Linked DNA regions of Homo sapiens. The protein of the gene in region 2 purifies or fractionates together with the protein of the main gene of each other region. This does not show direct contact. Each region holds a gene or a part of one and is shown on either strand. Other genes may lie near its edges.

Evidence for each region.
Region 1: the proteins of SKP2 (region 2) and CDC27 purify together in Homo sapiens (affinity purification with western blotting; 2 studies listed by BioGRID, with this or other methods). This does not show direct contact.
Region 3: the proteins of SKP2 (region 2) and TTC9C purify together in Homo sapiens (co-immunoprecipitation; 3 studies listed by BioGRID and IntAct, with this or other methods). This does not show direct contact.
Region 4: the proteins of SKP2 (region 2) and ANAPC1 purify together in Homo sapiens (affinity purification with mass spectrometry; 3 studies listed by BioGRID and IntAct, with this or other methods). This does not show direct contact.

The regions. Positions count from the first base shown.
Region 1 is NC_000017.11:47,116,659-47,123,702, forward strand, and holds the end of CDC27 (cell division cycle protein 27 homolog), read right to left. Parts: intron 5,962-7,044; coding exon of another isoform or gene 5,943-5,961; coding exon 5,786-5,942; intron 4,360-5,785; coding exon 4,277-4,359; 3' UTR 1,045-4,276; downstream 1-1,044. UniProt on the Homo sapiens protein: Component of the anaphase promoting complex/cyclosome (APC/C), a cell cycle-regulated E3 ubiquitin ligase that controls progression through mitosis and the G1 phase of the cell cycle.
Region 2 is NC_000005.10:36,175,742-36,183,692, reverse strand, and holds part of SKP2 (S-phase kinase-associated protein 2), read right to left. Parts: intron 6,729-7,951; coding exon 6,677-6,728; intron 6,509-6,676; coding exon 6,401-6,508; intron 5,096-6,400; exon of another isoform or gene 4,883-5,095; intron 1,876-4,882; coding exon 1,662-1,875; 3' UTR 1-1,661. UniProt on the Homo sapiens protein: Substrate recognition component of a SCF (SKP1-CUL1-F-box protein) E3 ubiquitin-protein ligase complex which mediates the ubiquitination and subsequent proteasomal degradation of target proteins involved in cell cycle progression, signal transduction and transcription.
Region 3 is NC_000011.10:62,723,864-62,731,977, forward strand, and holds the start of TTC9C (tetratricopeptide repeat protein 9C), read left to right. Parts: upstream 1-4,622; 5' UTR 4,623-4,959; coding exon of another isoform or gene 4,960-4,985; coding exon 4,986-5,223; intron 5,224-8,114. Other genes in the region: HNRNPUL2 (heterogeneous nuclear ribonucleoprotein U-like protein 2), read right to left, coding at 51-127, 428-563, 2,756-3,293.
Region 4 is NC_000002.12:111,768,592-111,776,542, forward strand, and holds part of ANAPC1 (anaphase-promoting complex subunit 1), read right to left. Parts: intron 3,885-7,951; coding exon 3,750-3,884; intron 2,544-3,749; exon of another isoform or gene 2,470-2,543; intron 816-2,469; coding exon 700-815; 3' UTR 1-699. UniProt on the Homo sapiens protein: Component of the anaphase promoting complex/cyclosome (APC/C), a cell cycle-regulated E3 ubiquitin ligase that controls progression through mitosis and the G1 phase of the cell cycle.

The DNA.
Region 1 (7,044 bases), on a different chromosome or scaffold from region 2:
AGGTGACTCACGCTTATAATCTCAGTGCTTTGGGAGGCTGAGGTGGGAGGATTGCTTGAGGCCAGGAGTTTGAGATTAGCCTGGGCAACATAGCAATACCCTGACTCTACAAAAATAAAAAATAAAAAATGAGCCAGGTGTCGTGGTGCATGTTTAGTCCTGGCTACCTGGGTGGCTGAGGTGGGAGGATTGCTTGAGTCCAGGAGTTCGAGGCTGCAGTGAGCTATGATCATACTACTGCACTCCAGGATGCGGGGCAGAGCGAGACTGTCTTTAAAAAAATGCTAGAGAAGACAACTTACAGTTACCATTAAATATGACTTGAAACCTCCAGAGGAAGTCCAAAACTAAAATATAAGATTCTGAACATACACTAATGCCAAAAGTGCCCAGTTTTATCATTTAATAGCTGAGCCTGTTTTCTGTTTTGTAAAATGAAGTAATACCTACCTTCTAGTGATGAGAATTGAAAATACCATCCACAAAGCAAGTAACACAATCCATAGACCAGGATCTCAGCAAACATAGCTTTTAAACAAAGTTTGCACTTACAAAGAAAAATAAAACCTATACTGAACCTTCATGAACCATAAGTTGTCAGCTAAACAAGCCAAAGAATAGCTCCATGTCTAAGCTGCTGTTTATCCTTGTTCAGCTGACATTAAATGGCAGGTCCTAGGGAAGGTTATGAGGTCTGCATTGTTCCCCTTGGAACTGCCCAGCTCACCCCACCTTCACATGTTTTTCCCTGTTACTGCCTTTTCTTCAAGTCTGAATAAAACCCTTCAGCTCTTTGTACTTTCTCCAAGATACCAAAAAAAAAAAAATTTCAAATTAGAGTAAAATTTAGTTTCTACATCTTACTTCTTTCAGATCCTGACCTTTTTAAATAGATTCTAATTGGAACAAAAAAACCTTTGTGTCCCTTTTGAAGAAATTTCAGAAATCACGTGATCAAAGAATAAGCAGTTGACTTGCAAATTCGCAGCTGCTGGTTGGTAAGGGGCTTCTGTAGTTTGAAAAAAGGTATTCTAAAAATTACCATTGTTTTTGTCATAGTATTTATTTTGATATTCCAAATAATACTAAAAAAGAGTATGACCGTTTAAAAATATAAATATATTAAGAGTGTAAGTTTTAAAAAATTAGATAAACATTGCTCTAGTTTTTTGTGAAACATAAAACTGTATCTCTGTTTTTCTGTGCCTTCTTATTAAAATACAGATGGCACAGCTTTCATATAGCTTTAACAACTTGATTATAAATTGCTTTCAAAAGTAACTTATTTGGATTTTCCATATCCTTTAATGAATTGCAAATATATTAACAGAAAAGACTTTCCCCCTCAACACTGTACAATTTCTGAAATAAGTCAGTTAAAGCAAAAAGAAGACACAAAATTACATTGTTTCAATGCAAACAGAACACACACTTCATACCCACACTTGCATTTTCCCAGGTTTTCACAAAGAAAATGGGTCACCATATTTCTCAGTGAAGACTCATACTATACTCTGGCTAATCAGAGACTTCCAAACTTTTTTCTTCAAAAAGAGCATTTTTAATAGACTAAATACTGGTTATCACTGAGTTTTTGTTTAAGGTACAACAGCAGCATGGTTCAAATGTTACTTGTAGTTCTCGGAAAAATTAAAAATTTTAAGTGATGAATACAGAAAATGTAGGGACCACCTTTCATTCTTTTGAGTACCACTGTTCTCTTGAAAAAATATTCTAACCTTCTAAAATCCCAGAGTTAAGAACCATTTCCAAGGGGAAAAACAAATCCAAGGCCACAACATAACTTCTGAACAAGTGTGTGCGCGTATATATATATGTATATAGATGTATTAAGTTGGTGCAAAAGTAATTGCAGGTTTTGCCATAAAAGTCATGGCAAAAACCACAATTACTTATGCACCAACCTAATATATGTGTGAAACAGAGAAAAGGATGTCAAACTACTTAATTTAATTTCTGTAAAATAAACTTCTGAAATTTGAAGCAAACATTTTGCTTGATCAAAATGTGTTCTTCTTCGGGTTGTTTGATCCCCATTCCATGCAAAAAACAAAACCAAACAAAAAAAGAAACTGCAAAAGCCAGAAAGTGTTACTACGTGGGAAATAAGGCTTCAAATACCTAAATGACTTTGAAAGTAGGTATGAGGAAAAATAAAATAGGCCAAGCTTGGGCGGAAACTGTCCCCCAACCAGCCATTGCCATGGCATGTCTTACAAAACGATCCTTTTATCCTTGGTCTCAAAAAATCAGTACCAGAAAGACTCTCACCTCTGGCACATAAATTCCTGCTACAAAAAGATAATTATACTTCAGCAAGTTATGTTCTAAGCTTAGCTTTCTCCAGGCTTTATAACGCAGAACTCAGGTTGAAGCTTTCTATAAAACTCTAAATGACACTGTTATACAGCACCTTGTGCTTTGCCAATTAAAAAAATAAAAGAATCTAAAATTAAATATTACAGAACTAATGGATAATACAATAGCATACGTGTTAGAATCCAAGTGCTAGCCTCTGGGAATTTTTCATTATATTTATTTTCTCCCAACTGTTCCTTTTTTTTAAAAAAGTATTGTTTTAGACAGTACATATACATAAATTTAGGTAGGGAAATCTGTTAAATATCTCTCTGGCACCTGATACCTAAAGACCCTGACTTGAATTAATTTATAAATTGTACCTAATCCATGTTCAAATGAGATTAACAGTAAATTATAGAAAATTACTGAGTCTACAGACTAAAATTTTTTTCACATCTTTTGTAATCCACCTTATTTTCACAGCTTGACTAACAAATACAGGTAAGTTTGTCCTCCATCAAATAATCCAGAATAATAACTGTAGGCCTGTCATTCATAAGAAACTATAATTTGTTATATTCTGACACTGGCACTTAATAAAATGTTAACAACTAAAATTTCTCTAAAAATTTCAATACATTACAGTAAAGGAGATAAACAATTTAAGACTGTTTAAATCTGTTACTGTGGAATTCCAATAATTATCATTTTATATGCATAATTGAATTCTTAAAATTGTGGCCATTTTCCAAAGACACCAATCTATATTATGACAAACTCAGAAGAGAACCTATCTCCTTCATAAGAATGTTTTTTCCCCCAAGCTAAAAATTTCCAACATCCTAAACCCAATTACTCTTAGTAAATGTTTTGGTGACTCACACTACTGAAAAAATCTGAAGCAGAGAGTCAAAAAGAATGGAAAGGATCTCAACCAAAGGTAACCACACATTCTTACACTCTGCTTAAGCAAACACTTAGAAAAGTCAAAGGGATGTTTTGAACAAATATAGATTCAAGGTTATGGTACAATTCTGATTATATTAAGGCTTTCACTATCATGATCTCTTAAAAGTCTCTCCACTTTAGTGTTCTCCTTCTGATTCATATGGTGAACTTAAGGGGTTATTAAGGGCCTTGTTTTGGCTTCTCAGTGGGGAACCACTCTATCATCTCTGAATGTTAAAGGTGATCCCACAGAGCTCAAAGAGAAGAGGCAATATGGTAAGAAACAATTTTAAAGTTTGCAATACCAAGACAACAATGATCAACACTTTGAAGCAAGATGAATAAATTAAAATTCTTGGTTAGACATTAAAGCATTCTTGCCAAGAATAAGAGTACACTGTATGGAGGGATATTTGATTCCTACATACGAGTCCCAATATGCCCATTACATTTGTTTATGGGAGATACTGCAAGTTTAAGGTAATTTACATTCCTTGGCAATCAAGTCACTGTTATAGGCAACGTCTTTTATTGTTCCATCTGGCACTTGCAAACACCATTCTTGAAGAACCTAGAAATGAAGGTCAGTTACTCTGTTTATCAGGAACAGAACCAAATAAAAACAAATTTTTGAAAAAGCAACCAAGAAACTCTGGTTCATCACTATTTTCCATATCTAATGGTTCCTTCAAGATAAAGCATAACTCTTCCTTTCATGATACTTTCCAACAAAGGGAGATTAAAGAAAAACAGAAAAGAAAGTTCCCCACCCTACCCCCCATAAATTGTCATTCATACTGGTAAAAGAGCCAGTCTTGTTAGCAGCTAAATATTGCACTGCCTTTCATTCTGTATACAGTCAGGGTCCAATGAAAGTGGCACACTCATGGTATAAGTGACGGACGATGACACCGCCAGCTCAAGAGTAAAGACTCAGTATACAGAGGGACAAGAAACACGTCAGCACTAGTCACACATCCAGTTGTAAAAGTCTGATTTCCAGAAGTTAAAATTCATCACTTTCAGCTGCATGAAGTTGTGTGTCATCCGCATCTGTCATGCTGCTCTCCTGGGATTCATCTGTTCCCACTTTAAAAATAAAACAGAAGTCCACAGTAAGTTTTCTGACAAATATGTCCTGTTGGTTCATGAAAACAAGTAAGAAAAATTGTATTATATTCAGAGAGATAAAACCCTAAATAAAGGCCCTTAAAAATCCTCATATCCTTTAATAAAATGCAACTCAAGTTTCCTAACTTTATAATAGGTCTGATATTAGCTTACTGCATTTTACCTTTAAGTTTTAACTACCAAAACTGCCTCTTCCTAATGAGTTCCTTATTCCTGCCCTAGGAATTACAACTAGCTAGTTCTCTGAGACATTAAAAAAAAAAAATTGACATTTCCCCCAACCTCCAATCACTGACTCCACTTTAAGAATACTCCCTGCTAGTCCACAGAAACACAGACTATAACCTTCAGTTTCAAAAGGTTTATGGGGTCAGTCTATCAGTCAATCAATCAATCAATCATCTATCTTGCTCTGTCACCTAGGCTGGAGTGCAGTGGCACAATCATAGCTCACTGCAGCCTCAAACTCCTGGGCTCAAGTGGTATGATTCTCCTGCCTCAGCCTCCCAAGTAGCTGGGACTATAGACACGTACCACCACAGCCAGCTACTTTTAAAAATTTGTTTAGAGACAGGGTCTCACTGGCTAGTCGTGAAATCCTAGGCTCAAGCAATCCTCCCACCTCAGCCTCCTGAGTAGCTGCGATTACATACGCAAGCCATCATGCCTGGCATATATATACTTTTTTTTTTTTTTTGAGACAGAGTTTCATTCTTGTCATCCAGGTTGGAGTGCAATGGCGTGATTTCGGCTCACTGCAACTTCAGCCTCCTGGGTTCAAGCAATTCTCCTGTCTCAGCCTCCCGAGTAGCTAGGATTACAGGCGCCCGCAACCACGCCCAGCTAATTTTTGTATTTTTAGTAGAGACGAGGTTTCACCATGTTGGTCAGCTGGTGTCATCTCCTGACCTCAGGTGATCCACCCACCTCCACCTCCCAAAGTGTTGGAATTACAGGCCTGAGCCACTGCGACTGGCCCCATGGCTTATAATTTTAATTAAAGCCTTTCACCAAGTTTTCTGGAACAAAGGCATCTAATCAGAATTTATCTTGTCAGAAATTTCTCCATTCTGTTATTTAAAAAACTACATTTTTATGAAGCAGATAAAACAGTACTGGTTACATATTCAAACATAAATTGAGGTCCAGGTAAAACTTAGCAATGAATTTGTCAAAGTCACACAGCAAACTAGATCCAGAACAGAGACTCATTATCTGACTTTATATGCATTTTGTTATTACATCACCCTGTTCAATTTCCCTAAAAGTCCATTTGGTATAATGAAAACACCATGGTTAGAAAAATAAAATAAAAGAGTAGCCTACAAATCCTTATGCAAAAGGTAACTTTCTAAATACTCAAAATCATATGTATGATACTTACTGATCTGTTCTTCTTGGGTTATTGGCTCCTCATCATCTGGAAGATAACGCTTATCAATTGCCTCTTTAATCTGGTTATTGGCTCCTTTAGGATCTAAATCCATAGCCCAAGAGAAATTCATCAGGGCGAGGTGCGTTTGACCTAACTTCTTGTAAACCTAAAAATAAACAGCAGCACTACATTTTTCATTAAGTTGTGAGCTTCAACTATAAAATTCTAACTATATATATACTTATTTATTTATTTTTGAGATGGAGTCTCACTCTATTACCCAGGCTAGAGTGCAATGGCACGATCTTGGCTCACTGCAACCTCCACCTCCCAGGTTCAAGCGATTCTCCTGCTTCAGTCTCCTGAGTAGCTCGGACTACAGGTGCCCACCACCACCCCTGGCTAATTTTTGTATTTTTAGTAGAGACAGGGTTTTGCCATGTTAGCTAGGCTACTCTCAAACTCCTGACTCAGATGATCCACCTGCCTCCCAAAGTGCTGGGATTACAGGTGTGAGCCACCGCGCCCAGCCTCTACAATTCTAAATATTTATAATTTAAATTAGGCTCCTGATTTATGTGCTCTAAACTCATTCTAAGGGTAGGACATTTTCTTCCTACAGATGAACTCATACCAGCTTTTGAGTTCCTTTTAATATAATCAGACATTATTTTCAGAATTCCTTGCTTCTATCTTTCAGGTAGTAAGTTTCCAATAAATATCACTCTGACTGGAGCAATGATAATGGGATTAAATGGATTATAAACTGCTTAATTAACTTTCATTTACAGTGATTTTAAATTGAGTTATATCAACTCTTTACAACTGTCCACAGTCACCTTAACTAATTGGCATATGGAGGTCTAGTCTGTAAAAAACTGACTAGTCTGGCCTTGGGACTCTCAGAAGCCATTTCTCTTAATCAAGACAACACAGTGCCATTCATGTTCTTCTACTTTTTTTTCTACTTTTTTTTTTTTTTTTTTTTCTTTCTGAGACAGAATCTTGTTCTCTTGCCCAGGCTGGAGTGCAGTGGGGTGATCTTGGCTCATGGCAACCTCTGCCTCCCAGGTTCAAGTGATTCTCGTGCCTCAGCCTCTGGAGTAGCTGGGATTACAGGCATGTGTCACCATGCCCAGCTAATTTTTTGTATTTTTAGTAGAGGTCAGGTTTCACCATGTTGGTCAGGCTGGTCTTAAACTCCTGACCTCACGTAATCTACCTGCCTAGGCCTCCCAAAGTGCTGGGATTACAGGCGTGAGGCACCA
Region 2 (7,951 bases):
TTTTTGATTTAAAAAAAAAAAGTTAATATAAATGACTGGTGTTAGCTTTTTTTGTTGTTACATTTTGAACATACGAACAAGTCATCAATTTAAACTAGTTTTTGTGATTTTTAAGAAGTAGAATTTGGCTGGGCGCAGTTGCTCATGCCTGTAATCCCAGCACTTTGGGAGGCCAAGACGGGCGGATCATGAGGTCAGGAGATTGAGACCATCCTGGCTAACATGGTGAAACCCCGTCTCTACTAAAAATACAAAAAAATTAGCCGGGCGTGGTGGTGGGCGCCTGTAGTCCCAGCTAGTCGGGAGGCTGAGGCAGGAGAATGACGTGAACCTGGGAGGCGGAGCTTGCAGTGAGCCGAGATCGCACCACTGCACTCCGGCCTTGGTGACAGAGCGAGACTCCGTCTCAAAAAAAAAAAAAAAAAATAGAAGTAGAATTTAATCTTTTCACTTCTCTGTACCAGTTTAAAAAAATATATATCACTGATGGTATCAAAAGGTCCCACATCTGGATTTTAACTCTTATGTAGGTATAAGTAGTGCTTACTACTGAAACTGCATGGAAGATATACCTGCTTCTACTGTATATTTCTGATTGAAGAGAACATGCAGTTCCTCTTAGGGAACTGTAGGTCTGATAACCTTATATATGGATAGTTTCAAACAATTATTGCTGAGAGATCATTTAAAAAAAAAATACAATTTAAAATACTTGATTCCAGAGTAATATAAAAGTAACCTTAAGAACCTCAGCGCTAAAGGAAAACAGCAGGCAACTTCAGAATTCTCCCATCCAAATTTTCAAGAATAGAGAGTGGATTAATACCACCTTTCTAAAACAAAGCAAGTCATTTTAAAAGCTAAAGGACCCATGTTAACATAATTTGATTATCAAGTTAGAAAACCACAATTATATTTCTCATCTAATTTAGATTCTGGAAACACAGTAACTTAATGAACATTACAGGATACTTCAGATTAACCTGTCATAGAAAACTGTCTGCTGGGCCTTCAAATCCTATATTGATTCTATATCTCTGGGTTTTGTAATGTTTGGTCTTTTGTTAAGTTTTAAGGTGAATTACATGGGGTTACTTATTTCTATTAACCTAATTTCAAATCTAAAGGCAAAATTCAAATACATTTTTCTCTTTCCTATTCCTAGAAAAGATGGCCTCAGACGCTACTATCCTATGATTCTCTTTTTGTTCAGCTCATAATACAAATAGCTTATTGTTCTTCTAAGCTGTCTTATAAAGCAATACTATAAAATTAAATAGATAAAAGTTATATGGGCTATGAAGATTGTTTGCTGGTGGTAATTTTTAAGCTTGATTCTGAATAGACTTAGTAAGAAGGGCACTTGGAAGAGGTGGCTCAAATTTTGCTCTTTAAGGTATCTTGAAATTATAGGCTCACTCTCCTAAAATTTCAAAAGGCCTACAACTTTGGCTCTTAAGAGCAAAGCAGTGATAGAAGCTTTTAGAATCATTTCAAAAAGCAAGATTTCATAGTTTTCCCTCTCAAATGGCTCCCTAGTATACTTGCAGAATGAAGGCAAAGGGAAAACCAAGAATAAAACTAGCTAAGTACTCCAGCAATTGGGCTTCCTGCCTATTTTCCCTGTTCTAAAGAAGAGACACCATCCTGCAATAAATACTTCATAGACAACTGGGCTTTTGCAGTGTCAGTCGGCATTTGATGCCCCATATCTCCTGGTTCTTTTTGTTGCCAATAGTTGGCCTGGCAATGGTGGTGAAATGGGAGCAATTAATCTGTAGATGAGGAAGGGCTTCCTTTAACAGTTGAAGGGTACCATCTGGCACGATTCCAAAAACTTGTAGTGTTTTTAGTGTGGGAATTTCTCCAAGTTCACTGGAAAGGAAGAAAAAGACTTTCAGAATAGCAGTATCTATGGAAACTGTTTGACTAGAGTTATATGACCCAAATTTTACAATTTGTGTCATCTACAAAATGCAGTCTGAAAGTGTAATTTACAATAAATGATTTGAGAAAATAGCAAATTAAACTGGAAAGCACAGACCATATAGCTTGAGCAACATGTCATTAGGAAACACACTGCTGCATTTTATTGAATGAGGTTCCTAATAACCTTAGAAACTCAGATTTATTTAAGAATCCAACCATATTTGCTTCCTTTCTCCAGTTGTGATTTATACAGTGATCTGAATGGGGTTACTGTGTTATGAGAAGAAACTAGCAAGTGAGTGATGGTAAAAGCAAATGTTTTACTGCGGCACCAGTTGGAACCACCACAGGTTACATGCAAATTAAGGATATGAACTTGACCTTTATTTGAACTAGGCTCATCTCTTAAAGGGAGATGCTGTCAGGACTGATGAACTTCTTAATAATGGTTCATAGTCAACAAGTCCATTATGTGTGATGAAAACTACCACTGACTTCCCTAAGATATTTTAGATAGGGTTATACAGTTGGGTACAGGTAGAGACAATGGGTGAAAAATCACACCCTTTATAGGAGGTAATAGCCATCTTACCTCCCTACGTATTACCATTTTTTTTCTGCATAGATAAGCCAGTCCCTTTAGGTATTTCACATTAGATGAAATTCAACCCTGTTAACAGTGAAATTCTGTTTCACAAATTCTGTTTCTCAAATTCTGTTTCACAAATTCTGTTTTTCCAAAGTAAATACTGTTTGGTGTTGGTAATGATTTTTTCCTTCTTAACTCAGATCTATGTGCCTAGAAATTCATCTCTCTCATCTCTGTTTGCTCAAGGTTGGGACATACAGTACAAAGTCTCAGGAAAGGGAACATTTATTTTGGAATTTCAACAAAATCCTACTACAGATCAATGAGCACATCAATTACCTAAAGTCAGAAACATCCTTTATATTTTCACATTGTCAATAATTATTTTTAAAAAGCCCCAAACTTTCCTTATAACTGTCTTTCTTCCTTCTAGCCTATTCTATATACCAATTTCCAAGGCATCCTCCTAAAGCCTAGCTCATGTTAGTCATTCATCTGCTCCAAAACCTTTGATGCTTCCCTTGTGTTTACAGAACCCAGGCTGTTCAGCTAGTCTGAAGACCTTCCGTGTTTAACCTGCTCTTCCAGTCTTCCCACTACTCCCCTAAATGTATTTATTCTACATTCTACAAGGTGTCTTAAACCCCACAAATGTTTAATATACGTTAGCTGAGTACAAGATGAAGGCTAATTTATAAAATAAAAGCATTATCCAAGGGAAATAAATATGCTTGTTCACAAGGGGACAATAAGATCTAAAGGTATATAACCAAAGAAAATCAGAAAGAACAAATTGCTGTCATTAAGTAAACTGCTTTCTGGAATGTAGAAACACTGTCGAAGTAAGATCACAGTATACACAGATACTTATACTTAATCACTTACGATGACAGCAATCCAGCTCCAACTTTGAATCCCTCATGTGAAACTTGGGAAACGTTGTAATTACTATGAGAATTCTGGTTCTGGTATATCCAAATTAGCCAAATTGTGAGCCATTCTGCACTGGAGAATATTTAAGGGAAGAAACTGTAGGTGGAGTAAGAAAAGGAGGAATGGCAGATGGCAGAGGAGGACATGTTCTTGCAACAGCATTGGGAAAGAGATTTGGTGAGGAAAGAAATTAAGAACAGACTCTCAGAACACACCCGGGTGTTATATATAAGGGGGTTATATAAGATAAGATGATGGATGAAGAACCAGTTCCAAGTCAAAAATCCAGAAAGTCTCTAAAATTTTAAGGAGACAAAAAAAAAAAAATGCCCCCGGTATGTGCATTACCTACAACTCAGAATAAAAAATTTGCAAGCATCTTTTAAAAACTACAATGGAAGAGACTGAAGAGCAAACTAAGGGATAGCAAATAGAAATAAGTAGTTCAAGAGCCATTATTTCTAATGTAAGAAATGTAAAATCACACCAATGTCTTATGTATATTGAATTTTAGAAAATAAAAGATATTTATGAACTCTTTCACAGGATTGCTCCTTACCTTATCTGTACAATAATCCTGTTTTCCTTATAAAATCTTAAATGCCTCAACTACAAATGCTCCTACCACAGAAGTCTTTTAGTCTTATCTTAGATTAGTTTACTACCTCCAGCTTGGGTTTCTTACTTGAATGAGAAATAGGGAAGAATTAGAAGGAAGTTTAGACATAGAGAAGAAGACCAATTAAGAAGTAAGGGAATAAATATAATGGGAATAGGTCCTGGGGAAGAAAACTTTATAGTTTCCCAAGTATTTTAAAATATTACAGAAGAAAGACATTCAAATTGTATTTTCCCACTTCCGAGAAATAAATAGCCTTAAGTTCTTTAGCATAGATGGCTCTCTTGAAATTATTATGGAAACATCCTGGAATTTTTATTATAAACCTCAAATATATCAGCTGCCAAAATGATTGAAATTAGAGTCATTCTAATTCTTATTTTATCTCAAGAAACTTTTAAGCATAAGGTACCAACAAACTCATCCTAAAGGATTCACAATGCAAATCAGTGTACTATTTACACAATACCTAAAGAAATATACTCTTTACCTTAATGTTCAAGGACAGGATCTTTCTTCTTCTCTATTCTAGTGGTCTGACTTGTAACTAAACTCCTAATGCCCCTGTTTGTCTTATTTCATAAGATTTGTACAAATAAGAAATAATAATACAGTGAAGGTTCACAACAGGTCTGTGACTTCAGACCCGTGTTTGTAACTATCAATTCACACTGCCTCCAAGTATTACCATGCCATTATTATGCAGGTATCGCAATTACTATTACTATTATCCCACTGGATAAAAATATTAAAATGAAGAGCTCACAGCCTTCCCCTCGCCTCTGCTTGAGAAAAAGCATTTGGGTCATTACCTGCTTAGCTTCTTTCTTTCTGCAGAGAAGGAACAAAAGCAAGACACATGGATAGATTCTCTTGAGAAAAGCAACCCAAAAAGAATGATCACCACACTCCCCAGGGGGCTGCACAGGCAAAGAAGCAGGAGGCCAGATGGCAAGGACAGGAAAGAATGGATGACAAAGAAGCCTTTTTGGGTAGACGCTAGAAGCTCCTAGGAGTTCTGGATGCTAGAAAATAGAGAGGGCAGGGATTTTAATAAGAGTTTCATGCGCATGAATTTAAACCCCAACATTTGAGAGCTGGGAAAGTAAATCCTGCCATCCTATTTTAGGCAGTCCTTTCCCAAATGAGATACCAGCTCAGACCCTGAACCCCAAGATTAATTTAAAAATGATTAATTAAAATGCGTAGCTGCCAGATTTCCTAACTCTACTAGTTAACTCTGTGTAGCTGAAGTATCTGATTTATTCATTAATACTTGAAACTAACTTAAAAGATTCAAACTATGATTCTGAGGACTAAAGTTCTTTGTTCAAATTCACCACCCTTCCTACCTAGGAGCTGGAAGCTAAATTAACTTTTAGTTCATGAGCTACATAAATGAGTCCAGCAGCCGCATTCAAGACATGTTGGGCACCTGATCAACTCTAAGATACTGACCTCTTGTGGTTTTTAATAAAATTGCTACACATGTACATTTGCCATTAGGGAGACTTTTCCAGCCCTTTGGAATGAAATGCAGAAAACCTTTTCAAACAAGATATGATTCCCAGGATGAGTTGGGTATGGTGTTTCCCAAAGGAAAGATGGACCAGGCTGCTGCTTTCTTGCACTCCCTTGATTCTGTGGAAGTTGCTGAGCAGGTAAAACTAACCCTTGTATAAACTATTAGATTAGATAGTGACTATTTTGCCTCTGTCCAGGAGACCTAGGATTTAGATCCAGGTCAGCCACCAACTCACCATCAGGTTTGAATAAGTCACTTCACTTCACTTTTTAGACCTTAACATGCCCCTGTTCAAAAACAGTATCAGACTTACAATACATACCATCTACAGGCTTATATCTTTCCAATTTCTTCACTATCCAGGACTTACATCACTAGAAGATACAGAACTTTAAGCCCAGATGAAAGTTTTGGAATCAACTGGAGTTAATCCGAAAAATTTGGAAAGAAAAAAAAAAAAAGACACTAACCCACATTGGGTCTGCCTTCCCAATTACACTTCAAGTTTCCTGGAGGAAAAGGTTATCTTCTGCTTCTCTGCTAAGTCTTCTCATAGATACTAAGACAGCAAGCTAGTAATTAAAACTGCTTACAGCTAAACAATAAATGTTTAGTGAACAATCTGGATCAACTCAATTTCACCAGTTTAAGCAATACTCTGCTGGTCTTTCATAGCCAGTCTGTGGTATACTTATTACTAATGTTTCGGTTTCATATGTCTATTAATAAAAATGGATTTTCACACCAAGGGGCATCTCTGTTGTTTCCTGCCTTCTATTAAGCATTAAAAACAAAACATACTTACAGTAAAGTTTCAGGTATTATATCATAGCACCGACTGAGTGATAGGTGTTGGAGGTAGTTGAGCTGGAAAAATTCCTGAAAGCAGTCATTCTTTAGCATGACACTATCACTGTTAAGAAGGCAGAAGAAAAGATATTGAAAATCACACATTGATCCTAGATAAAGAAGACAGAAATAACCTACTGTTTAGTTGCTTCAACATTATGATCCTTTCCCAATTTAATGAGAAATCAAGATTTTTCAACTTTTGATCTAAAATAAACAAATAAAAAAATACCTTAAGTCTAGATGGACAAGATTGGGGCATCTTCTAACTAAAGTAGAGAGATCTAGGAAAAGCAAAAAAACATGATGGTCACTATTAAATGAGGAACAAGACAAGGATATTTGTTATCACTACTATCATTGAACATCATGCTGGAAGTTCAGGGCAATGCAATTAGAACCACACACTATTAGAAAGAAAAAATGATCATCTTGGAACATAAAATTTTCTACCCAAAAAGCCCAAGAGAATCATCCGAAAAAGAAAACTGTGTAAAATGACAATCTTTAGCTTATCTATGTATCAGCAATAGCAGGCTGGAAAAATAATAGGGAAAAAAATCCCATTCACAAAAGCAAAAAGTAAAATTAAACACCAGTATATATAAGCAAACAATATATTACAAAGGTAGCACCTCAGATCAACAAGAGAAATAATGGATCAGTAAAAAGAAATATTGCCACTACAACTGGAAAAAAATATTTCTCCAACTCAAATAACATATTTAAATACATTCCACATAATAAGTTCTAAATACAAAAATAATATTTTTGTATTTAGGGTAATAATATATTAAATATTAAAAATTACTAAATAAATAATTCAGGGTAATTATTTAATTGAATCTTGGTATAAGGTATTTCTAAACATAAAAGAAAACATAGGGAACACATAAATTTACTACATAAAATTTTAAAACTACCATATTAAAACAATTTAAAAAGTATCAGAAAACTGGGAATGTTTTCAACATATATTAAACAGTGAGTTAATCTTATATAAAGAGAAAAAAGATAAATCAAAAATAGGCAATGAACATGAACAAATCTACATTGCAAAATACCAAGATAATAAAAAGGAGCAAGAAATACCAAATAAAATTAGAAATATTTCTTCTCAGCCATCAAGTGAAAAAAAATTCTATTATAAAGTAGGTCTACCATAAAGTAGGTCTTCCATGTACCACAGGTAGATATTTAATTTTATTTGCAGGCTTTCAGGAGCCTGAACCCTGCGTTTTTTGGATAGTGAACTGATTCCTGCTTTTTTTGGATAGTGAACTGATTTTCTTTTTTTTTTAAAGAATTCAGAGAATTATACAGTTTACTTTTGGCCCAGTAATTCCACTTTTAGAAAAATATAGATGTGTATGAATATATTCAATGTGGCAACAGTTATATTAGCCCCTCCTCCAGTTAGTTTAATATGTTAACCTCATCCATTCCGTGAAATACACTGCTAATCATTATGAAAACGCTTTCTGATAACATTTCATACATTTAAAAA
Region 3 (8,114 bases), on a different chromosome or scaffold from region 2:
CACTTTTAGGAGATTAGTTAAAAACCACAGTCTGTCTGCCTTATACATACACGTGTCCAGGTTCACAAGAGTTTGATCCTCCTCCTCATCTTTTGCCTCTTCTTCAGGAGGCAGTGGAGACTTTGAGCTATATATGTAAGATAGAAAAGAAACACAATGTAAACAAAGCCCTCTTCTTTGAGGGGTGTGTGTGTATGACATTATGTCCATTTTAAACTGTCAGTGAATATCAAATCCCAGCAGACAGCTTTTTCCAATAAATGAGAAAGGGCAATAGGAGTTTCCATGGTAGATGCAATCTAAAACTCATGCCTATAAAAACCTATTCCATTTTGAATCCACCCTCCTTCCAGTCTCTCCAGTCAATACCAGGTATACCAAAATCAGAGCAGACACTCCCTTCAACGAAAGGGACTGTTTCCCTCACCGGCTGTGGTAAGCCTCCTCTCGGAATTCATAGTAAGCTCGGCCATGTTCATCCTTCTCATCCCGCTGTCTCTTTACCCCCCGCCGCTCACCATCTGAGCCTGCTGGTTTTGACTTTTCACTATCCTGGTCATCTCCTACAAAAACGAGGGAAAGAAAATCAGCAGTTTTCATACTGGAGTGTAGAATAAGCTCACAACTAATAGACACTAACAGGGAATCTGAGAATCTGTCTGATCAAAACAGCCAGGTTATTCCCACTACATTCACATAACATTTTATTTCTAAAGATCAGCTTTCTGTCATTGGCTGTGATTTAATTTTTTTAAAAAGGGGCATTATGGGCTAATTACAGTCAAGCACTAGATAAAAATTGGACAATTTTTGCATTCTAAATTTATCCACTTAAATCAGGTCAAACTTGCAGATTTCCCCATCAATATGACATAAAAAATATCCTCTAGGTCTCTAAGAAAACCTCAAAGGTTAATTTAATTTTGACTCTTGTCAGATCTAGATTTAAGGTAGGCAGTTAGTACATATTTTGTAACACTTTTCCACACCTTCATGATACAGAGAAGCCTCAATTTCTTTTATTTCCCTTTCCTGCACTGAAATACACAGCCATCCATGGCTTTATTCATGTGGCAAATGGACTCAAGTGCATTATACACAGCTGTATTTTTATCAGGGACTTCTACTGAAAGTTGCAAGAGCAAACCACTAAGTCACAAGAGATCCATAAATAATACCGCATCTAGACTGCACATTTGGGGCAGAAAGGTGTTGTTGTATATTTAGCAACTTCTCTGCAAGAGGAAAAAACTTGGAGTTTTTCCCTAGGCTTCTGTATTTTGCAACACTAGGAAGGTTTTTAATAATAATTTCTTTAAAGCAGTCTTTTATCCTTCAATATATATTTTTTTGAGACAGAGTCTCGTTCTGTCGCCCAGGCTGGAGTGTAGTGGCGCGATCTCAGCTCACCGCAACCTCCGCCTCCCGGGTTCAAGCCATTCTCCCGCCTCAGCCTCCCAAGAAGCTGGGATTACCGGCACCCGCCATCACGCCCGGCTAATATTTTGTATTTTTACTAGAGACAGGGGTTTCACCATGTTGACCAGGCTGGTCTCAAACTCCTGACCTCAGGTGATCCACCCGCCTGGCCTCCCAAAGTGCCAGGATTACAGGCGTGAGCCACCACCCCCAGCCTATCCTTCAATTATTTTTTTATCTGCTCTTTGGGATATACATAAGTCAAAGGTTATGTAATGGGATTTTTGCTCCGGGACACAGGACAAACAATCTGCAAGTTGCATGTGATTGTTGTACAATGGGTTCCGATTATACCATGACTCTCCATAGTGGCCTAAAAATATTACTAACAAAAGAACTGAGGCCACCCACTTTATAGTAAGACTTATCCTCCCTACTCGGACACACACTGTTATGGATCAGTTCTAACCATCCAATCACTTCAAAAGAAAGGAGAAAGGTCACTAACTCCCTGGGGCGATTCTACAACACACCTCTTCCACAAGGTTACTCAACGGACCCAACAGCACCTCAGTCATTACCATTCAGGAACCGAGGGACCTGAAACGTAAAAGACTAGCACCAGGTGTTCAGCAAATCTACAAATATGCCTATCCACGGACTCAGTGGGACAATTAAAATTTAATCATAATCCAAGCAAGATAAAAACCCTAGCCAAGTAACGTTAACTAACTCTAAATGAACTAGATTAAGATTTTTCTCTTCACTGGTTAACTATTAAACTCGACACTGTTACACTAGAGGCTCTCCCTTACAGCTCAAAGAGGAGCAAGGTTGGATTTTCAGATTCTCTGTGGCTCAAGCTCTGGTAACATGCTTTTAATGGAACGGACTTTGACGGACTTCGATTTTTGCTTAACATTTTTACGGCGAAAAAGTTAGGTCAGGTAGCCCAAAGACCTGACCCTCTAACTGTGGGCCTAGTTCTCCGTGTAATCCCCAATTGCTTAGCACTTTCTCAGCTAAGAAAAATATAACAAGCACCGTGGGAGACTGTTCCACAGGTAGCTCACAAGTAGTTCGCATGCAAAATCACTCACTGCCATCCACTATCACCAAGGAACCAAGTTAGGCAGGAACCTTCCTCCTGCAAAGAGTAGGGCCACGAGAGGCGGCCTAACCCCTCAGAAAGGTGGGTAGAGAATGAAAGGAGTTCCATCAAATGGCACTTTGAGGCAAGCGAGAACAAGGACTCGGACCCTGCGGTGCAGGGCGGGGTGCTAGATCAGGGGCGCAGCCGGCAGGTTGGAGCCGGGCTCGGCTGCCAGCTCCTCACCCTGTTCCTCGGCGGCCTTGTCACCCGGCACCTCGGATCCCGGCGTCTCGTCCCCGCTCCGCTCCTCGGGTTCGTCTTCCTCCCTCTTGCCGAGGCCCTGCTCTTCGCCACCATTTACCCCGCCTGACCCGGCCGTGGCCTCCGCCGGCTTCTCGGAAGCATCTGGCTCGGCCGCGGCCTCCATGGCTGCCGCCTCCGGGGGCTCCGGCGGCGGCTGCGCGGCCTGACCCAAGGCTTGAGCAGGGGGTGGCTCCTCGTCCTCGTCCTCAAGCAGCGCCTCCTCGTCCTCCTCCTCCTCCTCTTCGTCCTCCTCCTCGTCCCCGCCCGGGCCGCCGCCCGACGCGGCCACAGGCCGAGGCTCCGCCTTGCAGGCCCCGCCGGGCCCGGCCCCGCCGCCGCCGGCCTCGTCCTCGAGCATCTCGGCGTCCAGCGCCTCCTGCAGCCGCTGCGCCAGATCCACCTTGAGGCCGCGCGAGTCCAGGCCCCGCCGCTGCAGCTCCGACCGCAGCTCGGTCACTTTCAGCCGCTTCACCTCCATCGCCGCCGCCGCCTCCTCCGCCTCCCGCCGCCTCCTCCCCTGCGAACCGTCGACCGAGTCCGACCGCGCAGGCGCCGCCGCCGCCGCCCGCCTCCGCCTCACGCGCCAGCACTGAGCCCGCGCGAGCGAGCGCACGCACGCAGGAGCGGAGGCCGCGCACGGTCCCGCTGCGCAGTGTTTGCTTCTCCTTCGTCTCCCCTCCCCCTTTCGGCTCACGGAGCCCAAAACAACGCAGCAGGGAGCTGTTTCCCCTCCAGGCCCTTGGTTCCCCAGCCGCGGGCAGGCGCGCGCGGAGGACGACGGAGTTCCTCCCGCTTCCTCCCGCCCTCTGGCGCCCCCGGGCCAATCGCCGCCGGTGCTTTTATCGCGCAGCCGCAGTGGAGTCCAAGACGGGCAAGGCTGGCTGCAGCTCAAGTGCCTCGTAGCACGGAAGCGTGTGCGCGCCGGTCTTTCAGTACTTCCAGCCGGGGAGTTCTGCGCAGCCGCCCGGAGCTCCCCGATGCCATGCCCCTCCCACCACCCTTACTTCCGTCTGACTTCCATTTGCTGTGGCGTTTTAGGGGTCGCTAGCCTCTTTTCCCTACTGTCTGTGCTTGCAGCAGTAACGACAAAAAAAAAGTCATTAGAGAATGTGTTGCAACATGTAAGCCTAGTAGCAATTGTTTTTCTGGCTAGGAAGCAAAAGGGCTCCCCAGAACGAAGAAATACTGTAATCCGGGCCCTCCTTTTTCCTCAACGCCTCAACTTCTACCCAGCAACAGAGGCCCTTGAACCCGCCCTTTTTCTCTTATTGGACAACTTGAATCGTCATTTGCCGTTCCGATTGGTCATCCGTGATCGTCCGGATTTTTCCAATTGGCGAAGCTGCCAGGGGAATTTTTTTTTTTTTTTTTTCCCAGGTTGGTCCGCTGAGGAGGCGGGGTCGTTTCTGCGGGATTATTTTTCCGGAGCCTCTTCTGATTGGGTGGTGTGGCGCAATGCGCGCGACCCTCAAGATACCAAACTGTACGCATCTCTGACCCTTTCCTCTCCTTGCTCCTGCTGGTAAACCGAAGCCCAGGAGACTTCCAGGTTTGGGCATCTGCAGAGGGCGAGGAACTGGTCACGGCGCCGGGTGGGCTTGCAGCTGTGACGCTTATGTGGACACCTCAGTGTCGCTGGTGGTTCACCTCGGCTTCCCAGTTTATTTATTGACGTCAACAAATAAATGTTGAATAAGGAAGAAGAGTTAGAATTGCTTGAAGCCCTCTGGAGTTTTAGCACTAGTCCCGCCCACTCCCTTCTACTTCCAGGTCGGGGGGGGGCGGGTCCAATAGAAAGGCGGAAGCCAGTGTCCCAGGCGTTCTCACGCCCGCAACAATTCCTGAGTAGGGCCTTGCTTGAGTTCTTCGGAAAGTCTCATCCACCCCCACATCGCCTCTTTAGGAAGTCACTTAATGTTGGGCTTCATTATTCCCACATCCCTTTCCTTACTACTTGCCTGCACTTCTTGAGAAAAAGACTGCAGAAAGGAGAGGTGGGGCTTTCAGTAGAAACAAGCAAACCGCAGGTCCCTGTGGGGGGACTCTCCAGGAAGAAGGGTAATTTCCTGCCTCCTTAAATTGGCTGCTACTGTCAGTTATTTTGCTCCCAACCCCAGAGCTTCACTTGCTCCTTCACTTCCCAGTTCCGCAAGAACCGTGGGCGACAGTTATGGAGAAGCGTCTGCAGGAGGCTCAGCTGTACAAGGAGGAAGGGAACCAGCGCTACCGGGAAGGGAAGTACCGAGATGCTGTGAGTAGGTACCATCGAGCTCTGCTTCAGCTGCGGGGTCTGGATCCGAGTCTGCCCTCTCCGTTACCTAATCTCGGACCTCAGGGCCCGGCCCTCACGCCTGAACAAGAAAACATATTGCATACCACCCAGACAGACTGCTATAACAATCTAGCTGGTAAGAACGGGGCTAAAGGGTGGCTAGAGAGCATTAAGACAGGAACATGAACATCTGTGAACATTGGGGGAAAAAACGCTGACTTTTTTTTTTTTTTACTGTCATCCATTTATTCTGCCATGAATTGGAATAACCTGTCAATCTGTGCGGCTGTAATTAAGTTGCCATAGAGCAGGGCTTCTCAGACTTCACCTGGAGAGTCTGTTAAAACACAACCTCCTCGGCCCCATCCCCAGAGATTCGGATGGGTCTGACGTGGGGCCTATCAGTTTGCATTTCTTTATTTTTTTATTTTATTTTATTTTATTTTATTTTATTTTATTTTTTTTTGAGATGGAGTCTCGCTCTGTCTCCCAGGCTGGAGTGCACTGGCGCGGTCTGGGCTCACTGCAGCCTCCCCGTCCCGGGTTCAAGCAATTCTCCTGTCTTAGCCTGCCCAGTAGCCGGGATTACAGGCGCCCGCCAGCCACCACGCCCAGCTAATTTTTTTTTTTTTTTTTTTTTTTGAGACGGAGTTTCGCTCTTGTTGCCCAGGTTGGAGTGCAGTGGCGTGATTTCGGCTCACCGCAACCTCTGCCTCCCGAGTTCAAGCGATTCTCCTGCCTCAGCTTCCTGAGTAGCTGGGATTACAGGCATGCGCCACCATGCCCAGCTAATTTTTGTATTTTTAGTAGAGACGGGGTTTCATAATATTGGTCAGGCTGGTCTTGAACTACTGACCTCAGGTAATCCACGCGCCTCTACCTTCCAAGGTGCTGGGATTACATGCGTGAGCCACCGCACCCAGCCCCAGTTTGCATTTCTAACAGCCTTCTGGGTATTGTTGATAGCTTTAGGTAATTTTGCATGCTATAGGGAAAAACTATACTTAAGGTCAGGCCATTGTTTATTTAAGGGACATTTAATATTTGTGAAACACGTTCATTTCTTTAGCTGCTAGTTTAGATCCCTTATATTCAGTGGGTCGTATAGCTTTTCCTCATTTTTCTTTTCCTTTTTCTTTTTTTGAGAAGAGCTTCGCTCTTGTTGCCCAAGCTGGGGTGCAATGGCACGATCTCGGCTCACTGCAACCTCCTCCTCCCGGGTTCAGGCGATTCTCCTGCCTGAGCCTCTGGAATAGCTGGGATACAGGCGCGTGCCACCACGCCTGGCTAATTTTTTGTATTTTTAGTAGAAACGGGGTTTCACCATGTTAGCCAGGCTAGTCTGGATTCCTGACCTCAGGTGATTCGCCCGCCTCGGCCTCGCAAAGTGCTGGGATTACAGGCATGAGCCACTGCACCCGGCCCAGTAATTTTTATTTATTGAGTGCCTATAACATGTTGGGCAGTCATTTACAGATATCTGCCATCTTCACAAAACTGCAAGGATTATCACCATTTTACAGATAAGGAAATCAGATCCTGTCACTGCCTGAAACACCCCATTGGCATCTCATCACACTTAGAAGAAAATCCAAACTCACCTCGAGGCCCCAGCACCAACTAGCTCTTTTATTTTTTTTGAGACTGAATTTTGCTCTTGTTGCCCAGGCTGGAGTGCAATGGCACGATCTTGGCTCACTGCAACCTCCGCCTCCCGGGTTCAAGCAATTCTCCTTCCTCAGCCTCCCAAGTAGCTGGGATTAGAGGCATGTGGCACCATGCCCTGCTAATTTTGTATTTTTAGTAGAGATGGGATTTCTTCATGTTGGTCAGACTGGTCTCAAACTCCCAGCCTCAGGTGATCCGCCCACCTCGGCCTCCCAAAGTGCTGGGATTACAGGCTTGAGCCACCACGCCTGGCCTTATTTTTTATTTTATTTATTTATTTTTTTTTTTGAGACGGTGTCTCACTCTGTTGCTCAGGCTGGAGTGCAGTGGCGTGATCTCAGCTCACTGCAACCTTTGCCTTCCAGGTTCAAGCGATTCTCCTGCCTCAGCCTTCCAAGTAGCTGGGATCACAGGCACCTGCCACCATGCCTGGCTAATTTTGGTATTTTTAGTAGAGACGGGGTTTTGCCATGTTGGCCAGGCTGGTCTCGAGCTCCTGACCTCAGGTGAGCCACCCACCTCGGCCTCCCAAAGTGCTGGGATTATGGGTGTGAGCCACCATGCCCTTCCCAAACTGGCCCTTTTATACACTTAATGTCCAAAGTACATTTCCACCTTCACACTTTTGTAGGCTGTCTTTCCAGCTAGAATGCCCTGTCCCTTGAATGACACTTATCCAGATTTGGACTCAAAAGTTGCTTCCTTAGAGAAGCCTTCTGTAGCTGGTGCAGTGGCTCACAACTGTAATCCCAACACCTTGGTAGGCCGAGGAGTTCAAGACCAGCCTGGGAAATGTGGCGCAACCCGGTCTCTACAAAAAATACAAAAATTAGCCAGGCATGGTTGTGCTTGCCGGTAGTCCCAGCTATTCTGGAAACTGAGGTGGGCCAATGTCTTGAGCATGGGAGGCCGGGGCTGCAGTGAGCCAAGATTGGGCCACTGCCCTCCAGCCTGGGTGACAGAGCAAGTAAGACTCTGTCCCCCGATTCCTCCCACCAAAAAGCCTTCCAGAAGCAAACAGCACTCTGACTTCATTCATTCTCTGTCCCGACATAGTTTTATTTTTCTTAAAGCACTTTTTTTTTTTTTGAGACAGAGTCTTGCTCTGTCGCCCAGGCTGGAGTGCAGTGGCGTGATCTCACCGCAAGCTCTGCCTCCCAGGTTCATGCCGTTCTGCCCCAACCTCCCGAATAGCTGGGACTACAGGCGCCCACCACCACGCCCAGCTAATTTTTTTTTTGTATTTTTAGTAGAGACGGGGTCTCACCTTGTTAGCCAGGATGGTCTCCATCTCCTGACCTAGTGATCCTCCCGCCTTGGCCTCCCAAAGTGCTGGGATTACAGGTGTGAGCCACCGCG
Region 4 (7,951 bases), on a different chromosome or scaffold from region 2:
TTAGGAGGCCACCAATTCTACTGAATTAAGGCCCCACCCTTATGATGACCTCACTTAACCTTAGTAATCTCCTATATGCCCTATTGCCTAATACAGTCACACAGGGATTAGGGCCTCAATATATAATTCTGGGAGGACACAATTCAGTCCACAGTACTTCATGTTGAGCAACTGAGGGCAAAAATCTCCTTCTCCTGTTTAAGGTGATCACATCATAAGAGTGTCTGGCATTGTCACCAGAAGTACAAACTTATTTTAGACAGGACAACTGTGACATCTGAGGAAATGCTAAAGCGCTCTTTTGCCACAGAAAGTAAAACTTTATGACATAGCTTCTTTTAAAACTTGGCATTTTTGGGCATAGTCACTTCACCTATACCACCACAGTTCAAAGACTTTAAAAATCAATATTCACTCCAGCAACCCCTGCTCTATTCTCTAAGTCCAAAACTAAAGCAATCATCAAGAGTTTTGGAAACAAACCAAAAACTTTATTTACAAAAGTAAATTTTAACTTGCTTTTATATGTCATATACCGTTAATGATGACAGCAACAGATTTAAAATACATTGAGGTTTGTGCAGCTCATTTCCCCCTAGTTATACCATAAAACTTTATAAACATTGCTTTAGCTTTGATGTTTGGTCACGTTTGTTGTGCAGAAGTCACGTTTCAGGGTAGGTTCACCGCCAGACACGGTCACATCACCATTGGCTGTGGATTTCCAAGAAGCAAAGGAGCCAATCTCAGCAAAGCTCGCACTGGCATTTTTAGCTGCTTAAATTTGAAGAGCAGTTCAGCAAAGCTTGTGCTCCCTAAAATGGAAATGGGGTGGGAAGGTCACATCTCTAAATAAATTCAGCCATACCTCTCCTTTCAAGGAAGCTTCAGAAACACAATCATGTTTAAAACAGGCATTTTTCCCTTTGAAAATGACTATGCAAAGACAATATTTAAAATTATGAAATTCCTTAATACACTGTAATGTAAATTGAGTATCCCTTTTCCAAAATGCTTCTGAAGAGAGGTGTTTTGGATTCTGGATTTTTTTAGATTTTGGAATATCTGCATTACACCTACTGGCTTTCTTTTTTTTTTTTTTTTTTTGGAGACGAAGTCTCACTTTGCCACCGGGGCTGGAGTGCAGTGGCGCTCTCTCGGCTCACTGCAAACTCCACCTCCTGGGTTCACCCATTCTCCTGCCTCAGCCCCCCGAGTAGCTGGGACTACAGGTGCCCACCACCACGCCCAGCTAATTTTTTTTGTATTTTTAGTAGAGATGGGGTTTCAACGTGTTAGCCAGGATGGTCTCGATCTCCTGACCTCGTGATCCGCCCGCCTCGGCCTCCCAAAGTGCTGGGATTACAGGCGTGAGCCACTGCGCCCAGCCTCGGCTGAGCATTCTTAATCCAAAAATCCCAAATCCAAAATGCTGTAATGAACATTTCCTCTGAGCATCATGTTGGTGCTCAAAACGTTTTCGATTTCAAACACTTCAGATTTCAGATTAAGGATACTCAAACCTGTATATGATTTGATAGAATTTACCCATTCTAGACTTCAGAAAGTGACCTATAACTACATGTGAAACTACTAATATTGTTTAATTTTATATATATATATATATATATATATATAAATTCTTTAAATATAATGTGCAAAAGTGCCTGTCTACCTTCAAATACTATCTAAGTGGTATTTTACTGGTTCTAATACAGTTGACCATTGAACAACCCTGTTTGTCCAGCCTGGCCTGAAAAGAAGTCTATACTTTTAAAATGTCTTCCTTTTCCTTTTAGTAGTTTGACTATTAATGTGACTAGGTATGGTTTTCTTTGTATTTATCCTGCTTAGGGTTCACTGTGGGTTAATATTTAACACAATTTTTCAAAATTCTTAGCTTCTGTCTCTTCAAATATTGCTTCTAACTCATTTTTTCTCTCCTCTTATTCTCTTATTCCAACCCCATGCATGTTTATTTTTTTTTCACGGTTTCCACATGTCTCTTGTACTCTTCTCTGTATTTCCTAACCATTCTTCCCTCTGTGCTTCAGTTTGTTTACTTTCTACTTGTCTTCCAGCAGATAAGTGTCTTCCAGTTCACTTCAAATAATCCAGTACTGAGATCTTCATTTCAGTTACTATATTTTTCAGTTCTAGAATTTCCATTTAACTCTTTTTTATTGACCCCAGGTTTCTGGTGAAATTCCCTATCATTCCTTCTATTTTCCTGGAAACATTAGACATAGTTATTTTAAGTTCCAGTATGATAACTCCAATATCTGAATCACACATAAGTCTGTTTCTATTATCTGTTTTTTTATTATTATTATGTTTCGTAATTTTTGATTCAACACTGAATCCTGTAGACTAAAAATTGCGGGGGCTCTGGGTATGTTTTCTTTCTCCTATGAAGGTTACATTTTCTTCTGTCAGGTGGGGAGAAAGCACACAGATCACCTTAGTTCTGCTCTAGGCTAATTGTAGGTCAAGTCTGCTTGGAGTGAAACTGAAGCAGACCAGATCTAAAATTAGGCTAGAGCAGGCTTAGGGCTTGGCCATGTATTAATTCACCTGAGGAGCTGGGATGCTGATCAGAGCCACTTCACTTTAACAAGCGTTGAATTCCACCCTTTGTCTCCTCAGTCCTATGCTGCTGCTGACATTTTTGCTTACATTTTTGGCCTTGTGGCTTCTGCTAGATCTCTTGAAGTCTTATCCCATGTATATGAAGGCTAAAATATCATTAAGTAACTCAAGGGAAAGGTATATCCAGAGTCTGAGTTATGATTTCTATTGTTCTCTCCTGCCTGAGACTGTGTTCCTCAAGTTCTAGGCTCTTGGGCAATCACAAACCCAACCTCTGGCTCCTCAGCCCTGCAGCATTGCTGCTTTTTGCTGGCACTCTACTTCTTGTACTATGAACTGGCAAATGCCTTTGGGGGAGAAGCTAGGGTGAATATAAAGCTCTCCCTGTTGTACTTCCCTTTTCTTATTTTTTTTTTTTAGCTTTTATATTTGTTTTTGAGGGCAAGTGAGTCCAATACAAGCAATTCCATCATGGCCATAACCAGAAGTCTCTAGATAGTAAACTTTTATCAGAGGCTTGCAAAACAGCAAAAAACTAGTAATGTAATTAAACTTCAAGTTTAAATGATTAAATGGAACAATCTTTGCCCTTATCAAAAAATATTTTTTTTGAGAATCTCAAAAAAATTGGGTGCTTAGAATTCATCATATCTTAGTATTCAGCTTAATGGATAAATTTTTTTTATCTGTTTCTATATTCTGAAAAATACAATCAGGTGATAATACTATTAATTTTTAAAACTATTATAAAAAAATTCAAACACAAAATTAGGTATTTATTAGTTGTAAAGCTTTGTAATATTAGAAATTAAGATTATATGTGATTCTAAAAAACCCAACTGAAAACCTAGAAAATAAAGAAAAATAGCTTTAATAAAAAAATCAATTAGTAAAGAATAATATGGAATATTTAGTTTATTAGTATAGATCAGTGTTTGGGGCTCTGTGAAGAAGAATCCATCCTTTTCTGAATAAAAATGAAAGTTATTCATATATAAAGTTGATAATTTTTTCTTTTTTGCTCCAAAACAGTCCCTAACAATGACACTGCAACATTAATGAAGAGGAAAGTCAAACTAGGGGCAGTAACTACTGAGAAACTAGAACATAAAGGGGTAGGTAACAGAGTTACTGAAGATAAGACTTAGATATGCAATTACCTTCTAGTCCTATAGGTGGCAGGTGCTGTGGAGCTGGCACAGAGTGGTAGACGAGGAAGCAGGCCAGCATGCTCAGCTGTGATTCCTCCAAGGGCTGCCCGCTGAGGTAGGCGTGCACACACATATCACCCCCGACTGTGAGAGAAACAAATGGAACGGAACCAACTGATGACAGAACTGAGAGGCACAAGAAATATCTTCTATTACTTTTTCATCAAGAACTTATTGAACGCTCAGCATATATAAAGCAGGTTCTATAGCCGGTATTGAGGCTACTCTGACAAGCTAGACTGAGTCCCTGTCATTGTAGAGTTTAGAGTGTTGTTGGGGGAGACAGATATTACACAAATAATGACACAAACAAATGCATAATTACAAATTGTGAGGAGTGCTATAAAGGTGCAGTGGTCACTGTGGTTGTCTCCCCGAAATACCCCTTGTCACACCCTACCCTCCACCATATATTATATTTGATGGGACTGACTTCAGCTCCAGAACTAGATCCTTACTAGTCTTGGCCAGGGGTCCTCAAACTTTAACATGTGCCAGAATCACCTGGAAGGCTTGTTAAACCACAGATGAGTGGGCCCCACTCCATGCACAGAGCACAGAGATTCTTATTCAGTAGGTCTGGGGTGGGGCCAGAAAAACTCCATTTCTAACAAGTGCCCAGGTCATGCTGCTCCATAAACCACACTTTGAGAATCACTGATCTTGGGTGATCAAGGCAATCCCATTCTCCTGATGCAGTGTTAGTTCAGAGACAGGCAGACCCAGGCCATTTTTTCAATAAGAGACATTCTCTGCCACAGGGATAGATTGAGAGGTGTGCATGAGATGCAACTCGAGCCAGAAACCTGAGGAGGTACTTAATGACAAGCTTGCTGGAGGCTCCAGGGAAAGAAATTCCCTCATTCTCATCACAAAACTCCTAGAAGCAACTCTATTCTTCCTCTGAGTATCATGCTGAGCTAGAGGTGAACATGTTACAGCCATTTGATTACCATCCGAAAAATGCACTGAGGATAAAGTCATGGCACAGAATGTAGCTGATGGAACCTCAGAGAAATGGAGTTGAAGACACTGGAAAAAGATGACCCTTTACGTGCCTTACCTGCAGACCTCTAATAACATAGGCATACTTGTGTCCTTACTGTTTAAAGGCAGGTTAAGTCAGGCCTTCTTTTACTTGCAAACAAAGGCATTTTGATACAGAAAAAAGGTAGAGAGCATGAGCGGGCAGGCTAAAGATGTCAGGAAAGCTGCCTGAGGGAGAGTGGTCTTGGAAGGCCTGGGAGGAAATGCCATTAAAACTGAGGCTGCATGGATAAATATGAGTTGGGCAGGTGAAGAATGAGAGGAAAAGGTTCTAGGGAGGGAAAACAGCATATTCAATGGCCCCACAGTGAAAAGGAGCTCAGTGTTTTTGAGTAAGTGGAAGGGGCCAGGGTGGTGTGGGGAGCAAGTGGTGTAAAAGAGGCTTTGTTGAGGAAAACAGGCGCCTTGCAGGTCACACAGGTCCTGGTGCCACACAGTAGGGATTTCTTTCACAGCTGAATCAGGAGCCATTGAAAAGCTTTAAGCAGGAGTGTTACATCAGTTTATTCTTTAAAAGACTGTTCTGTCAGTTAAATTGAGATGGTTGGAATGGAGATGAGAAAAAGCAAGGAGGCTATTTAGGAGGCTATAACAGTGGTCCAGGCACAAAATCATCATTCTGTTCTAGGTAGAAATAGTAAAATGTGGACAAATTCAAGAAATATCTATGATGAGGATTGAAAGGCATCAGCAATGGGTCAGCTATTGCAGAGAAGGGAAGGAGGGAAAGGAGCAAGGATGACTTCCAAAAGGGTCAACAAAGGAGTGACAGTGAAATGGTGACAAATACTGAGAATTTTTAAAGAGGATTTTTTTTAAAAATTGGGAAAGTGTGCTATGACAAAGTCAAGGGAGGCTCATTTCAAGAAGGAAAATGTAGCTAAAAGCCTCACCATTGTAGAGATGGAGTGAGATGAAAACTGTAGACTCCACTGAACACAGTTGTGAGGATGTCAGTCTACTGGGAGGTGGAAACATTTAGGTTTGGGGGAGGCAGCAGAGGGAGAAAGGTTAAGGGAGAACAGATGAGATTCTTCTTTGAACAGCTCATCATGAAGGAGAGCATGGTGGTTCAGCCTCTCTTCAATGACTTTCTCATGTCTACCAGCATTTTGTTTCACTGATTTTCTCTATTGCTTATCTGTTTTTGGTTTCATTGGTTTCTGCTTTTATTTGCTTGCTTTGGGTTTACTTTGCTTTCCTACTGCACTTGACAAGTCTTAAAAAAAAAAAAAAAAAAAAAGGACAATGCCAAAAATTGCATTGCAATCCACTGCTGGTGGGAAAGTAAAATGGCACAATTTGGAAAATTGAGTGTGGCAATGGGTGAAGGTACAAATGACGCAAAAATAGGAGAATGCTGGCAACTATTAAAATTGGTGTTGTGGTTTATTACACTAGTCTACTTACTTTGTATATTCTTTAAATTTCCATAACAAAATATGAAAAAGTTAATAAAACTTTTTAAAGTTCTTAAACTTGAAACCCGCTTTCTTTGCCCAAAATTATAATTTGAGGAGATAAATACTGTACAAAACATTTATATAGGCCAGGCGCCATGGCTCATGCCTGTAATCCCAGCACTTTGGGAGGCCAAGGCACGTAGATCATGAGGTCAGGAGTTCGAGATCAGACTGAACAACATGGTGAAACCCCGTCTCTACTAAAAGTACAAAAATTAGCTGGGTGTGGTGGCGTGCACCTGTAATCCCAGCTACTCAGGAGGCTGAGGCAGGACACTCGCTTGAACCCAGGAGGTGGAGGTTGCAGTGAGCTGAGATCGCGCCACTGCACTCCACCCTGGCGACAGAGCGAGACTCTGTCTCAAAGAAAGAAAAAACAAAACCGACATTTATATAATATAAATTGGCTGCATTTTCAGATTAGTGTAGTGATTTAATGGGTTATCTCAGATCTAATGAGTTGTCAGTGAGTGATCCTGAAAGTCCACATATGCATCTGTGATTTTTACACACAAATATGAATGCAATTTCCAATTTTCAGTTAATTTATTGTTCTCTACCCCAAAGCCAACTGCTAGTGCTTGTAAGAGAGGAGACTATATATTTAAGAGGTTTTGTTTTAAAAAAAATTCTAGTTTTTCACTAAAAAATAAACACATTTTTGATAAATCTGTGTGGCAAGTCAAATTCAATGGAGGCTGACAGCAATGCTGGAAACCACCAAATGCGCTAAAGAGCAACAAGGCAATCAGGGCCCTGTTTTAGAGAATGTTCTAATCACTGCCAAAGTTCCATACATTATATGAAATGTGCAAATCAGGGAATCTGCAAAGATTTAAGGAAGTATTTATTATCAATAGCAAAGGTCTGCCATAGGTGATCAAATGTTAAATTGAATAAAAACGAAACACGAAAACCTTTGAAATAACATGTTTTTCCCCAAAAATGAGGATAAAAATGACTATCCAAAAAATTATGAAGCTATATGATCTTTGAATCTGAACAGGAAATGACAAATACAATGCAGCTTTTAAATATAAACATGGAGAGTCTGAAATCAGGCTTTCCAAGTATATCCCTCACAACTTGGTTTACAATTTAATTTTTTTCAGAAATTTATTTCCTAGTGTTACAGGTGGATAGTTTTAAACTCAATTATATTCAAACGCTTAGGGTCTATTGATTACTAATAGTTTTCACTAATCAAAGCAAGAATTGTTTCTACTACTATTACTAAGGTTAGTATTAACCCAAAGCAAGCAACTGTCAGATATTTACTGGGAGCATTTGAATGAACTAAAAAGAATGAAAAGATCAAGGAGTCTACTCCTGAAAATCAGTTTCAGGTGTATTTAACACACAGATACATTTCCATAAATCTAAAGGCCCCATCGCTTGCCTCATGTAAGTCAGAATCACTTCTACACTGTTAACGAGTAACTACAATTTCCTTGCAATCACAAATCCTGCTGATAGAAAGCCACCACTGTGACATCACATAGCTGTGCGGTCCCAGGTTTTCAAAACTGAGTTGGTACAACAAGCTCACTCAGCAAGCACACGTCAACTTCTACATGTACATGTGGTGCCAGTACAAAAACAGGATGGCTGCTGGCCTCAGGAAGGCAACAGGCCACACCC